2 separate regions of the Homo sapiens genome follow, and region 2 is linked to region 1. Evidence: fine-mapped expression QTL. Tissue or cell type: whole blood. Region 1 holds a variant in brackets; the other region holds the start of a gene. All regions are shown on one strand. Distances are from middle to middle.

Evidence for each region. PIP is the estimated chance that this variant, and not a neighbour inherited with it, causes the effect.
Region 2: it holds the start of AIMP1, and the variant in region 1 is fine-mapped to the expression of AIMP1 in whole blood (TOPMed, PIP above 0.99).

What each region holds. Positions count from the first base shown.
Region 1 is chr4:106,233,659-106,241,658 of GRCh38, reverse strand. It overlaps TBCK (TBC1 domain containing kinase), which reads left to right. Exons shown (of 26, transcript NM_001163435.3): 13 at 4,851-4,900; 14 at 5,140-5,269; 15 at 6,292-6,390. Among named protein-coding and RNA genes, the nearest start is that of TBCK, 79 kb to the left of the region's middle. The variant G/A (reference allele first, on the strand shown) is at 3,993.
Region 2 is chr4:106,311,633-106,319,784 of GRCh38, reverse strand. It overlaps AIMP1 (aminoacyl tRNA synthetase complex interacting multifunctional protein 1), which reads right to left and starts at 3,235. Exons shown (of 7, transcript NM_001142416.2): 1 at 3,191-3,235. It overlaps TBCK (TBC1 domain containing kinase), which reads left to right and starts at 3,576. Exons shown (of 26, transcript NM_001163435.3): 1 at 3,576-3,854. RefSeq lists enhancers at 3,027-3,276, 3,767-3,826, 3,907-3,996.

The sequences.
Region 1 (8,000 bases):
TCTCAGTACCATATATTGAATAGTTTTCTCTTCACTTTTTTGATCTATAATACCAACTTTTTCTATGTATATGGATATGTTTCTGGGCCTTGATATTCTGATTTGTTGGCCTGTTTTTCTAATTTTAGCAAATACCACATTGCCTTAATCTGTAGTTTTATGTGAACTGTTGATATCTAGCAAGGGAAGACCTTCAGTTTTTTTGTCCTCAAAATGGAGTAGGAACTCTTTAACATCTTCCTCTACTAGCTGATTTTTATAATCATCATAAAGAACTTCATAAAAAATTATAGGGTTTTGATTGACATTGCATTGAATTGATAAGTTAATTTGTAGAGAATTGATGTATTTAAAATGTAGGGTTTTATTTCTTGAACATGCTTAAATAAATATGTCATTTATTTGTCTTATTTTATATAACAATTTTATTTTTAATGTCTGTATATCAGTTATCAGATTTATTTCTAAGGTAATTTATTATTGCTCTTGTATATAGAATATATATATATATGTAAGTATGAGTATGATTTTTTCCAACATTTTATTATAAAAATTTTTAAACAGAAAAGTTGAAAAGCATTTACAGTGAACAACTTACCACCTACATCAAGCATTGATATGATCTATTAGCAAAATCAAGTCACACCTATTCATTGACCTATTATGTATAGCTGTTTTGTTCTGCATTGGCAGAATTGAGTAGTTGCGATAGAGACTGCATGGCCCACAAAGCTAAAAATATTTGTCATATGGCCCTGCATAGAAACAGTTTGCTAATCCCTGACCTAGATTCTATAATTAACATTTTACATGCTTTATCACATGTCTATCTTTCTAGCTATTCATCAATCCATCATATTTTTTGTTCTTGCATTTCAAAGTAAAATGAAGACATTACTACAATTCAGCTTACACATTAGAGTTTAAGATTTGTTTATAGTTCTTTTCTAGGCAAAATTTTCATATAGTAAAATGTATAGATCTTAAGTATACCAGTAGATGAGTTTAAAATATACATCAATAATATTTTTTCATGTAGTAAAATGTACCAAATCTTAAGTATACCAGTAGAGGATTTTAAAAAATAAATCAATAATATTTTTTAAAATACTATTTCAACTACTGTTTTGTGCATGATTAGTAACACAATTGATTTTTTTATGTGGATTTTGTGTCAGGCAACATTGCTGAACCTATTCTTTTTTAAATAATATGTCTATAGATTCCCTGTGGTTTTCTTTGTGAATTAAGGTAGGGTTTTTTCCTTCATTTCCAAATTCTTATCTACTCACTTCATCTTTTCTCATTATTTTTGCTGAGCGTCTATAACGCTATTGAATAGAAACAAATAGTGGGCACTCCTGTCTAATTTCTGGTTTTAAAAGTTTGCTTTTTATATTTCATAATTAAGTATGATATTTGTTGCATTGAGTTATAGAGGTCTTCTATTCTTAGTTATAAGTTTTGTTATGAATGGGTGTTGAATTTCACTGAGTGTTTTTACTGTATCTATTGGGATGGTCATATGCTTTTTTATGTATTATGTTAATGGATTTAATTATGTTGATGGGGTTTTTCAATGTTGAGCCATGTTTGTATTTCTGGGATAAACCCAAACAGATCATGATTTCATTTTTCCTTTTTTATACATTTGTGTTTTGATTTTCTAATATTTTGTTTAGAATTTTTGCATTTCTGTTTCTATTTGAGATAGGCCTGTGAGTTTCTTTTCTTTTACTGCACGATGCTAGTTTGGTATCAGGGGTATACTAGTCTCATAAAATAAATAGGAGAGTGTTGCCTTTTTTTTTCTATTTTCTGAAAGACTTTATATGATTACATGTATCTATTTCTTGAATGTTTCATGGGAGTTAGCTTTAAAACCATATTGTAAGGGCTCCTTATCCCTATTTGGGTGTAATCATTACTTCAGTCTGCTTAATGGTTATAAGTTTACTCAGGTTGTTTATTTTGTTTTTAAATCATTTTCTAAAGTTATATGTTTTAAGGCCTTTAAACTTGCTCTTCCCACTGCCTGTAACACTCTTCCGGTGCTTCCATTTCTTTTCTTTACATTCTCTGCTAAAATGTCACCTATTGGTGGGCTTTTGTTGGCCATCCTTTATAAAATAGCAACGCCACACCTATCCCTTGTATTCTTTATCCTGTTTTGTTTTTTTCCTCCATTGTACTTCTCTTCATTTGATGTGTTATATGTTTTCTTCCTATATAATAACTAAATGAAGGAATGAATCCTGTTATTATGTAGAAGCCCTATTAATATCATAGTAAAGTATAGGGGAGAAGTATTTTATAATCTTATCATTAAGTCCCAGTTTTTTAGTGAGCCTGTGTTCCTGGGCTGTGACCTTCACAAGGCTTCTCAGCTTCTCCCACTCCTCCTCCCCAACATGAGACAGGAAAGCTAGAGGGGCTGGAGTTGGGTATTTCTGTTCCCCTACATCAAAGACTAGAGTGGACTGGAGTTGAATATTTCCTTCCCAAGTTGGTTAGATTTCTGTAAAACCCAAGTTAGTTAAGACCTGACCGAAGAGTTTCCCTTTAAGACAGGCCTCTCAAGGAAAACAGAGTACTCTGGCTGTATTTCAGATTGGTTACTTTCCACCTCCCCCTGCAGGAAGTCAAGGGTATTTTTCTCAGATCTTCACCCTGAGAACCTGGTGGGACCTGCAGAGGTTAATCTCATGGAAGCAAGGAAGGCCTCCCTAAGGCAGGGCCTCCAGAAGTTTTTCTCTCTCGTATTAGTCTGTGCTCAGCCTGCAAGTATTAGATAATTACCTTTTAATTGATCTTAACAGACTCCAGCAGTGGCTCTGTTCCTGTTGAGCTGTGATTCCCTGTATTCGAGGGTCCCTCCAGCTTTGAGGACATCACAATGCTCTGATTCTGACAGATGTGAGACGAGTTCTTGATTTTCAGTTTGTTCAGCATTTTTCTTGTTAGAGGAAGAATGATGCCTTCTAAGCTGTTTATATTTTGTATAAGAAAGTGGAAGTCCTAGCCTTTTTATTTTTAACCATTCATAGCCAAAGCTGAAATAGGTACCTATCCTTGTTTTCTGTCTAAGCCAGCAATTCCCCTAGTTTTTTCTTTACGTGGCTTTAGAAGGGTCTTCTCCATTCTGAAGGTCTGTTATGTAGGTTCCCAAACCCTTATCCCATTATGGTCTAAATCTCTAGACCACAGTTATTAACTACTTTCTCTCTAGGCCTGGTTTTATATCTGTTATCACTGCATTTTCCTTATGTTTTAAAGCTTATCTAACCATTTAATATTTTACATGTTATATAGTAGGAGAGTATTAGAATCTCTTGTCTGCCATAATGCCAGCAACAGAAAATTAAAATATATAACTATTCCTACTCAGTACTCTGAATTTATAATCTCTTTGAAAGAAAGGATGTGGAAAGTAACAAAATAAGTAATAATACCCTGCAGCGAACAATAAATTACATCCAAAATATATGATTTCAGCTGATTTTGTTTTGCTCTTAATTTGTTTCTTCAATTTAAATATAATCCAAGTTAAATGAATGTAGGCTTCAAATCTAAATGTCTCAATTCCTTTACAGTTCTACTTGTGAAATTTAAAATACTCTTCTTCTGTAGTTATTAAGAAATATTAATTTGCTGAATCTTAAAATGATATGGAAACCATATAATAATTTTTATCTTTAGTGTTTTCATTCACCTTTTAAAAATCCTAATGTGCTAAGTTTTTATTTAGAAAAGACAGACAAGATACTTAATTAGATAAAATCTATGACATACAGTATACTGAAAACTAATCTTTAAAAAGATTTATGTGTATTAATAATGCAGTAAAACTTGGGAAAATTTTATTTCCTAACTTAAAATTTTAATATATGAAAGATATACCTAAAGGTTTTTTAAAATAGGATAAGTACATAGCACATTGATTTTTAGAGTAGAACCAGGCATAAATTCAGTGTTTGCTGAATTCTTAGTTT[G/A]AGTAAAAGATTTTTCTTAAGCTTTAAAAATTCTGGGAATAACTCACATGGGTGCACAAAGACTCTAATCAGCAGAAGATCAGTGCTTGCTGCACACACAGCTTGAATTTCTATGTCAATCCCCATAGGAGCAGACATTCTGCCTTCAAGTTGGAAGTTGAACAGCAGAGCAGCAGGCAAGATGGCATTAACTTTAATCACCTTGCTTAGGATGTGGTTAACATTTTACTTTACTACTGCCTTCCTGCTTATGATTTTGAAGAATACCTGTAATCCTGTCAGGGTTGTTATTTGGAACAACATTTATTAAAATGATTTTGTCATTAAGTGAACTCTCTCCATTGATTTATTAGCTATTTGAATCATACATGTTCAAAGTATGATGTGAGAAATATTTTGGAATCCTTTTTCTAGCACCTTTCTTTTTGACTTAGCTTGTATTATGCCAAAGCAAAAATAAATCTAAGTTGTTCTTTTAGTATATACATGGCTATATAGTACCTCTTTTTAATCATCTTTCTTCATATAACTTAAAATTTTTTTCCCATTCATTAAGTTTTATACTAGTGCTAGTAATTCTGAGTTCTGTTTGGAAAATATATCATGATAAGTGTCTAACATTTATGAGTGATACCTATAGATAAGAAAAAAATAGTTGTTTTTCACAGCCAAACCGTAATCAGTAGAGGCATTGTATGCTTGCATGTTTATGGTAAGAACTGATTTTTAGACTCTATTTTATACTTTTCTAGGTCCCTTTATAAATTTATAGTTGTTATATTACTTGTCTTTTTAAACACAGATCAGGGTTTCTGCCCAATATGTTTATACATAAATATTTTGTCTTTAAATACACAGAGATTGAAAGATGTTGGTGGAGAAGCATTTTACCCATTACTTGAAGATGAGTGAGTATATGTAGTCTCATTTTAGATTTATTTTTCTTTCTATTTATATTAGATTTATAAGAATTTTATACATTTTCTTTGAAAAATGTTTCCTAAATAGAAAATAATAACCTGAGGTTTTGGTTTATTAAAATTTTGTGCTTTTTCTGAAATCACTGTTGGTAGAGTTAGGAAAAAAAAAGAAAATTTTGTACCTTTTGTCCATTTTTTTTTTTTATTGCTTTTGTTCTCTTTTACAGCCAGTCTAATTTACCTCATTCAAACAGCAATAATGAGTTGTCTGCAGCTGCCACGCTCCCTTTAATCATCAGAGAGAAGGATACAGAGTACCAACTAAATAGAATTATTCTCTTCGACAGGCTGCTAAAGGTATGGATTCTAAAGTATAAAGTGTTAACAATAGCCCATATGGAATTTTTTTTTAATTTTTTCAATAATTCTTAGGGAATCTTGAGTAATAAGAAGATTAATTTTTATGACCTATCTTGTTCAGTTAGCTTTCTTTCATTTTAAAAATGATACATGTTCTTAGTAAGTAAAATTAAAAAGTAAAAACAAGGTGTGGTAACATATGCAAAATCATGTTAAAAAAGGAATAATGTCTTTATTTTTTAAAAGAAGACTTAAAAGTCAACAGGAAAAACATCAATATTGAAACAGAGAAATGGATAGAGTACATAATATAAATACAGCTAGTAAATCTATGCAAATTGTTCATCTTCACTGGGAATGAAAAAAATACAAATTAAAATAGGAGTGATTTTCCATACTGCATTAGCAAAGTGAGCACAGATGCAATGATATTGGAACTCTCATTCTGTTGGAATAAATGTGAATGTACTGAAACATTTTGTAAAACAATTTGAATGCATATATCAAGAACCTTAACAACATCTGTTGCCTTTGTCCTATTAATACTCTTCTAGAAATTTCTCCTAAGACACAAATTTATAAAAGTATAAATTTATATGCAAAATGCGGAAGTACTCATAATAGTAGCTTATAGTTATTGATCACTTCTCTATCACCACGTTTTTAACAGAGTGCTTTACCTGCATTATCTTATTTAACCCGTATGAGACTGGTACTATTATCCTCCATCTGACTCATTTAAAATCCCCCCAGAGCATCAAATAGAGAGGAAGGATTAAAAATCAGGTAGAATCAGCTGCTCTTCTTAATTATATAATACGAGTTTTTCAAGGTGTTAGGGATTCATTCATTCTACTGCTTATTTATGTGTATTAATAACACCAGACACAATAATTGCACATACTTTGAAATTTATTGCAAGTCACTTAAGTTTTATCATGGGTATATTCAGAACTGTCTAGACTAAAAGATGGCACTAGGTAATTTGAGACGTTTTCATTTCTTTTTTGATATCATAGGCTTATCCATATAAAAAAAACCAAATCTGGAAAGAAGCAAGAGTTGACATTCCTCCTCTTATGAGAGGTTTAACCTGGGCTGCTCTTCTGGGAGTTGAGGTAAGGAAAAAAGAAAAGGTTAGAAGCTGATTAATTATGCAAAGAAAGGATGGAGAAGGAGAGTGCTTTCCAAATATATATTTTTCTAGTTATTAGAAAATTATATAGTAAAATATAAGCATTAGAATATTTGGCAATTTTAAGTGGAAAGAATATAGGAAAACAATAGAATAGAAAAATATAATGGAGGGTTTATTAGATTATGCTATTTAATGTTTCATTTAATAGTGGTCACAGAAAATGTTTTGATTATTACCATAGAATATTTTAAGAATATATATCAGTTATAAATGGGTAGTCCTGCTTATAAAGTATGCTTGTTATAGAATATGATTGTTTATAAATGGTTCTGTCTAAATTTGGAGAAATCTTTCCATCTAATCTGACTTGTCAAAATCACTAACATAATTTAGTGACTTTTGGCACACCTATTCCACCTGGACTATGCTACCAAGAGAAATAGCACTTTCTCTGTGGTTGTGAGGAAAGATGTGTCACAAATTATGGTGGCCTGCAATACTAACAGAGAACTCCGATGACATCAATCATAATAATGGGCCAAATTCTTGCCAGATTTTTTTCATTTCTTGTCAATTTCTTTGTCATCTTGTCTTCTTATATTCTCTTATAGATAATTATCCTTCCTTTTTAAAGAATTCCAGTCTGGAATGGTGGCACATGCCTGTGGTCCCAGCTTCTTGGAAAGCTGAGGCAGAAGGATTACTTGAGCCCAGGAGTTCGAGGCTGCAGTGAACCTTGGTTGTGCCACTGCACTCTAGCCTGGGTGATAGAACTAGACCCTGACTCTAAAAAATTTTTAGAAATCCTCAACTATTTTTAATCCTTTTCAATCCTCTGTTTGAAGAATTTCCTTTCTTCATTCCTGATTCCCTTGATAAGAGTCTACAAATACCTTTGAGTTTAGTTGGTTACTTTACAAGAATGCCAATTGTTCAATATCATACATTAATCATTAGACTTGTAGAACAATATAATGCTAAAGTTCAAGAGGACTTCAGGTATCAGGTTGTCCAACTCTCATTAAATTAATGTCTCAAAGAAGTTGATAATAGCCGATATTGGAGTTTGAACCCTACTTCCTGGCTCTTTCTCTACCATGATAATAAGCCAGAATAATAATATTTTTTTCATGCTTGGTCCTATAGAACACGACCAAAATTTGTAGTCGTTCATTCAGTTATTTCTAAATTTTAACAGTCTAACTGAAAAGCGTAAATGACCTCTTTAGGCCCTAATGATTCTATCATGTAATTATAGATATAACATAACAAGGTTGTGTTATGTTGTAGGGTCTGGGAGGTTGGCCAAACATACTTACTAGCTAAGTAATTAATCCATGACATTTATGTTCTGGTATGTATAATTCAAGAGTTTGCCTCAGCAAAATGGCAAATTGTCACTTATCAGAGACCTTCATCACAGATTGTCAAAGACACAGAGAATTTCTCTTAAGATGAGTTCTACCCTGAGTTTGAATGTGCTTATCTGTAGTTGGGTAGGTTTCCAAAGATAGATATTTGTAAAAAATAGATTTCTCTATATTACTATTTGTATTAAGGATATGATAAATTAATATATCTTCTTTTATT
Region 2 (8,152 bases), 78 kb before region 1:
CTAAAACAGTTTAGGAAATGCTAGTTTAAGTCTCTGGACTAAAATGTAAAAAAATTAAGACTGTGAGATTAAAATAGATATAAGAATGACATGCACAGTAATTGAAAATATAAAACATTTATGAAGAGAGAAGCACAGAAAACTGTAGACCAAGTATGTTAATTGTGTTTGGTGAGGATCAAGACCTTTTCTTTTTCCTTTACTAAATTAAAATGGTAATAATGCATTTTTTAGGACAAAAGCTTTTGAAACATATTATCTAAATCATTCTGTCCCTTCACATTAATTTTGTCCTTCTCAATGTTAATTATCATACTTCATCAAACCTAAAAAGCCATTAATCATACGATGCCTCTAATGCAGAATCCCAAATACTGTACATGAATTTATAGTACATCTTAATCATTAAAATACACACACAAAAGATGATTTTTGAGATTCTGAGATCTTCACTATCATTTTTGTTTACTGAGCAATTTCCTCAGTAGTCCTCCCCACCCACACCATCTAAATTGCCTGCAATCTTTTTGAAAAAGCAAAATCTCTGCCCCACGATGACAACATTGGGAATCAAACATAAGTAAGTTACTACTTTGAAATCAAAGTTTTACAGGCAGACTTTTAATTTTAGAATTCTTATGCTATATAGGAACGCTACACAAATTTGAAAGTGTCTCTACTCAAAACCTCTAATTTCCCTATTTCAGAATTACAGTAGGTAAAAATTTACATTTTTGTTGGAAGCTTTAAATACTATACAAGAAATCTAAAATGCCATCAATTGTAAAATGGCTTCAATCCCAAGAAGCTCTATTATTTTATGTACATTATGAAAAAAAACACTATTGAATCAACTGACCCAATGCTTTCTTATTACTTAGACACATCCTATATTATTTATTGACAGACTTCTTTTAAATTTAACCCTGGATTTTTATCTTGTATCACCCTTTGTTTCCCCACATACACAGTAACTTTTCATTCTAATGCTAATCATAATCTTCTAAATGATCTTTAAAAGGGAAATTACACTCAACAACTATATGCCAATAGTGCATATATAACTCAACTGAAATAATGACAAGATTAAGTTATGACTAAGTGGGTGTAAGTGTGGGCAATGACAAATATCTCACAACTGCCAATTCATCTACAGTGATTTAAAGATGTCAACAACTTAAAAATACATCCCTATTTCAGAGATGTTAAGTAAGAGAAAAATGTGTATCTCAGAATTGATGGAATATAGTAATTTTAATCATTTTCTTCCTTTCTTCTCCTCCCTTCATTCCTATTCTTGCCTTCCAACTTCTTTCCCTGATTTGCTACACAATCTAATTACTGGATATGTAAAAATATTATAGTATACATAAAATACCCCACACTGAAAGACCGTCCTTATTATAGTGTAAAGCAATGTGGTACCTTTTAGCACTAGGTGAAAATTCCTGCTAGGATTTAAATCATATGTGTCAAAAGTCAGAATTTAAAGAAGAAAATTAAATACACTGAGAACAATGCATCTGAAGACACTCAAAATATGTAAGCGCAGCAACCAGCAGTAATTCCCTAGGTCTTTTATCAACCTTTGCCAAAACCTATAAAAAGAATATCTAAAATTGCTTTTTTATGGAAGTTCCTATTTCCCTTACCAGACAGCCTGCTTTCCCTTTACTGATGAGGACATAGGGGGTCCTGGAGGGTTTAAAGGATGGCTATAAGGAATGACTATAGGGTGGACAGCTATGAGAGGCCAGTCCATGCATTTCTAAATACCATCGTCATTAACACAAAAACTTTCCTCCCCAGTACAGAGTCCATAAAATTTAAAAAGGAGTATGCCTTGGCCTCCCATGACCCTCTTACCTCACAATAAGGCCATCTTTTACCTGGTTAAGATTTGCAGACTAGACCCATTACATACCTTGTCATTAAATACCTATAATATACCCTAACCTTTGCAATCTTGACAGATGTGATTTCCATTTTATAGACAGATCCAGGAAAATTACATGACTTATCTGAATCCCTTCAAGTACCACATAGCAAAGCCATGATTTTAACTTGTGTTTGCCACTCTGAAACTCACACTGGAATTCATTTTTCAAGTGTCCTCCAAAGCCTAATTAAATAAAATTAACCCTGTCATCTATAATACTCTTACATATCCAAATTAAGTGCATCAAGAATATAACTGGCCATTTCTTACCACCCATAGTCAAACCACCATTATGCTTCCTCTGGATTATTGCAAAACTCTTCTTATTGGTCTCCTTTCTCCTACCACGTCCTCCTCTGTGTATTTTCCTTAAAGAGTGACCCTCTTAAAAGGAAGTCAGAGCCCATCACTCTACTGCTCAAAACGCTCCAAAGTCCTATTTCATTTAGAATAAAAGTTAGATGTCCTCAAGATCTTCATGACCTGCTCGCCTTGATTTAATCTCCAGTGAAGGACTAAACCCTTCACTCAACTCTGCCCTACAGGCCTCCTTGCTATTCTAGCACGTTTCTGCTTCATGACCTCTGCAATGGCTGGTCCCTCTGTCTGACTGCACTTTCCCAAGATATTCGCGTGGTTAAATCTCCCACTTCTGTCAGCCCTTTACTTAAAAGTCATCTTTTCAGCAAGACCTTCCTGTGTCACTTTATACCCTTCTTCCCTGCTTTACGTTTCTCTTCAGGACTATCACGACCTAAAATACAGTATGTTTCTAATTACTTTGCTTAGTATGTGCCTTCCTCTCTAAAATGTGAGCTACAAGTAGACACAGATTTCCGTCTGTTTTGTTCACTGCTGTTCACCTAATGCCTAGAACGGTGTCTGGAATAGAGTGGGCGCTTAATAACTATTCGCTCAATGAATAAATTCCTGTCTTCACCCTCCTCTCCCCCAAAGCACCTAAGTCCTTTGACACACACATTCACATAACAGTAAATACGCTTAGGGATCGATATTTTTCTGTAGCATTCTTAACTTAGGCCTGCATCCCATTTCTCAAACGTGGCTCCTTTAGAAGGAAGTCTCAAACTCTTTCCTGTTTCCTTAGGCCAGGGCTGGTCCTGCTGCGAACGGACTACCCATTAGCAGCGCAGGCCAGGTCCTCTCTCCTGGAGGCAAGTTAGAGAAGGAAGACCCCTACGATCGCAATCGGCGATCCCCGAGTGAGTGACCCGCCACGACGTCACTCACATGAAGCGGAGGACCACGGGTTCCGAGACAGCCACAGCAGGAAGCATGTAGGTCCAGCCACCCGCGTACTATAGCAGTGAGAAAGGACCCAATGAGGTGTCCTTGCTGAAAGCCTGAGTGTTCTACAGATTCAACCCTCAATTCTTTCTTCCTCTTCCTGTGCTCAGTCCCATTAACCTGCCATACCACGCTCCTCGTCTTCCATTCCCTCACCCAGTATTTTCAATCGACCCCCCCCGTCCCCCCGCACCTCTTTCTCTCTCGCTATATGTCCTTTCGTGGCCAGTTTGGGCAAGGGGAAGGACACCACAAGTCGGGGTCTTTCCTCAGCGTTGGGTCGCGGTGGCTGTGAGGGCGGAAGAAAAGGCCAGGCTGAGGGGAGGGTAGAGGGTGAAAAGCTCGGATCTGTGTTTGGGGAAGGCCAGGCTTGCGCTCCTCGCCGGGTTCCGCGAAGGTTAACCTTGGCTGACTTGGCTCGCGAGCAAAGGGCAGCGTCTGAGCTCCCGGCGTTCCAGGAGTGGCCTCTTTTGTAGGAGCACCTGAAATGCAGCGTCTGGTGCACTAAGCCGTAGCGGCAGCAGCAGCCACAGCGACAGCGCTGGGGCCCTGTGTAGAAGCTCCATCCCCCTTGTCTTTGTGCTTGCCTGCGTCCCCAGACTCAGAGGCAGGTATTTGGGTAATCCAGTTTTCCGTGTCGTAGTGGGTGGGGTCTGTGGGAGGTAGAGGACTATCAGGAGCAGTGAGTGGCCCCGCATGTCTTCAGAATAGATAGAGAACCGAGCTGTGGAGCCGCTTGCTGATAGGTACTGTCTCCATCCCTAGCTACAGCCCGCCTTTCCTGTAAATCAGGTTCACCTGAGTCGTTTGGGAACCGTAGGCTTAGTAATCGCTCTGTCACTGCCTCAAAGGAAGGCTAAAGGAGGTTAGAGAATCTAGAATCCGCCCCTCCATTACTCACCTTGGAGGCAGAATTTTGCTTTGGTTTGTTTCTGGCCCTCGAGGTTTAGTCAGTCGTCAAAGTGTAACACCCCCTTGAGCAGTAGGAGAAAGTGAAGCAGAGGAAGGAAGTTACTTGAGGATTGTCAGTGGCTGCTTTTCAAGGATCCCTGTCCTGGTTTCTATCTATTTGAGACAAAAATAACCTCTTGAGAGAATGTATATATAAAATAAATGAATTAGTATCATTTTCCTGTTGAAGAAATGTGAAATTTTATTCATGATAAAATCGGCGTCTTTTGCCCTATTTTTTACTTTCTTTCCCCATTCGAGTCGTTTAAAACTCTAAGTTCTTTGAGGGCACAGAGTCTGACTTGTTCATTATCCTTTGCCCACCAGCTGGAAAAACAACTGACTTAAAATAGGGGCTTCAAAATATTTGTTGAATGAATGAATTTTCAAGCCCAACTGCTTGCACTGCTGTTTCCCTCATCTAATCTCTCATCTCTACGTTTTTTTTCCCCCGGTAGTTTTCTTCCACTCACGAGGTGTAAGTGAATGTATGTGTGTGTATTTTTGTGTGTGAGCCTTTTTATGTACAACCATTTAAGAGGTAGTGGAAAAAGAACACTGATTATGCTAATTAGTGTTTTATCTTTTTCGATCATTGTGTTTTATTTGGTTATTTTATTTTCAGCTATGTGATGATAAAGACATCTGATTGAAAATAAAATGGTCGGGCGCGGTGGCTCACGCCTGTAGTCCTAGCACTTTGGGAGGTCGAGGCGGGTGGATCACCTGAGGTCAGGAGTTCAAGACCAGCCTGGCCAGGATGGTGAAACCCCGTCTCTACTAAAAATACAAAAATTAGCCGGGCGTGGTGGCGGGCGCCTGTAATCCCAGCCACTCTGGAGGCTGAGGCACAGAATCGCTTGAACCCGGGAGGTGGAAGGATGCAGTGAGCCGAGATCATGCCACTGCACTCCAGCCTTGATGACAGAGTGAGACTCTGTCTCAAAAAAAAAAAAAAAAAAAAAAAAAATCAAGTAGTATAGCGTAGTAGGATTGAATAATAAAGTGCAACTGTCTCACCTGTCCTACTCTCAGTACTGTTCTTCAAAGATAACCACTTTTAACCTTTTCTAATTTTAGGTCTGTAGGTTAAATAATAAGTTAAACTGTTAATTCTTTTTGTTGACTTCTTGAGATAGCCCTAAGTTGAACTGCTAATTCTTTTTCCGTTGACTTCTAGAAATAGCCCACACCATTCACAATCTCCTCTGAATTTTGGAAGAGTCATAATCATAATTTTTAGTTTTTGTATTGGTTACTTTATAATTCAAAATAATATACGTAAACTACTTTTTTCACATCAACTTTTGAAAATATATTTGACTCCTTGTTTGGTAAAACGAGAAAAGTAGTGATTCTACCTTTTTCTTTATCACTTCAGAAACTACATTTATGCCCACTTTCTCTTAGCTGGACATTTACTTGTACATTGTCAAAGTTAGTAATATATTTCTTAACTATAACATTTGCGCTTTATTCACGTGCCAAAAACCAATAAAAAAAATAAAATGTTTACAGTATTATGGCTTTATAGTTGTTACTTAGAGCAAGTCCAAGCTGTATGCTCTGATATGTTTTTTTCCCCAGAGTTTTAACTTCATGATCCCTGTGCCATACTAAGGAGATTATTTATGATATCAAGGTCAAATGGGTTTTTATTTCTTTCCTGCCAAGGGCAAAATATGCTGTAGTTGAGCATGCTTTATATTTTGGAGTATGTAATACATAGTTTTTAACCGTCCCCACTTTCTTAATTGCCTTTCTGCTTTCTCCTGGGGAATAGGTAGGTGGATGTGCTTTCTTCACTGAATCTTCTCATTCTTTGTATGATGCACATAGAAGCAAGCTTCCATTCCTCTGTTTGAAGATTTTCCCCTTAAAGCCCAATGGCTTTCTGTTTAATTTGAACAGATTGCATTCTAGTCCTTTTGTATTGCTCCTATCCTGGGCTTATATTCATTCTTGGGTAAATAACATTGTTTCTTAGCCCCTCATCTTCTGTTATTGGGCTTCCCCCTATTTCCCTGGAATATATCCTAAGGAAACTTGCTCACAAAAGGCAAGTGAAAGGTAATTTTATTTTTTAATGTTCGTATAGCTGTAAATTATAATTTGCTCTTATGACTGATAATTTGGCTGTATATAGAATCAAAAGTATTTTCCTTCAACTCTCAATCCTTCCATGTCTTCTAACTTTTTTTTTTTCCTTTTTTTTGAGCTGGAGTCTCACTGTGTTGCTCAGTCTGGTCTGAAACTCCTGACCTCACGTGATCCTCCCACCTCAGCCTCTCAAGTATCTGGGATCACAGGCACAAGCCACTGCACCAGGCTCTCTTCTGACTTTCATTATTGCTGATGAGAATGCCAGTCTCACTTTAACTTGTTGATAGCAGAATCAGTTTTTTCTGTCTGAAATGTTTACAATTTTCTAGTTACGTTTGATGCTTTGAAAATGTATAGCAGTGTTTATCTTCTCATAAGCTGTTTTATTTTGTGTGAGATAAAATTTGATACATATTAAAACACATTGATTTTAAGTGGCCAATTTAATGAGTTTTGATGCATGTACTCATCCATAAAACCACTACCACCACAATCGAGATAGAGAATATTTCTACCACTACAGAAAGTTCCTCTGTTTCTCTGCTTATTCAACCCCTCTCCCCCATCTACAGTACTATCTTCTGATTTTTTTATTAATACTATAGTTTAGAACTATAGTTCTGGAATTACATTTAAATGGAGTCATACAGTATGAACTCTTTTGTGTCTGCTTCTTTCATAAACTTTATGTTTTTGAGTATATCCATGTTTTGACATGTTTGTTCCATTTTTGTTAAATAGAATTTCATGGTACAAATATGTTAATTGATTCACTTATGGGACATTTGCATTGCTTCTGGTTTTTAGCTATTAAGAGTACAGTTCCTATGAACATACTCATACAGTGTTTTTTTTTATGGACAAATGTTTTCATTTTTCTTGGTTAAAGAGTGGAATTTCTGAGTCATAAGTTAGGGATATTTTTAACTTTAGAAAAGTTTTCCAAATATTTTCCAAAATTCTTTTGCCATTTTACGCTCCCACTAGCAATATAGCAAAGCTCCACTTCCACATTCTCAACACTTGTTACTGCCAGTCATTTAAATTTTAGCCATTGTAGAAGTTAAAGGTTTGTCATTGTGATTTTCATTTGCATTTCCCCCAATTAATGATATTAAGAACTTTTTCATGTGCTTATTATTTTCATGCCTTGTGTGAAAATATGTTTGTGACTTTTACCTATTTATGTATTGGCTTGTTTTATTATTGAATTGTGGTATTTCTTTATAGACTCCGAATACAGGTCAATTATATACAGACACACATATGTTTGATTTTAAAAGGTCATATATATACATAATGTCATATGTATATACAGACAGATGTAAATAATATTTCCCTTTAACTCGAATTTTTATTTTCTCAGGGGTGCCTTTGGATATGCAGATGTTTTTAATTTTGATGAAGTCTACTTTGTCAAAATTGTCTTTTGTGGCTAGTGCTTTGTTCTATTGTGTCTAAGAAATCTTTGCCTAGCCTAAGGTTGTAAAGATATTCGCTTATGTTTTCAATTAGAAGACTAACAGTTTTACCTTTTACGCTTAAGCCTATGTTCCATCTTAGATTTTTGTGGATGTATCAGTAGAAGTTGAGGTTATTATTTTTTTATATGAATATCTTTTTCCAGCACCATTTGTAAAAAGGACTTTCCTTTTCCTGTTGAACTCTTTTGCTTTTGTTGAGAATCAATTTATTTTATTTAAATTCTTTTAATTATGAAATATGTGGTATTAACACACACATATGTAGATAAATATAGATACAGAGCATGGAAATTACCAAGCATAATGATAACATGAACACCCATTAATTCACCAGCTAAAAACTAGGCTATTACTCAAGATTTTTGAA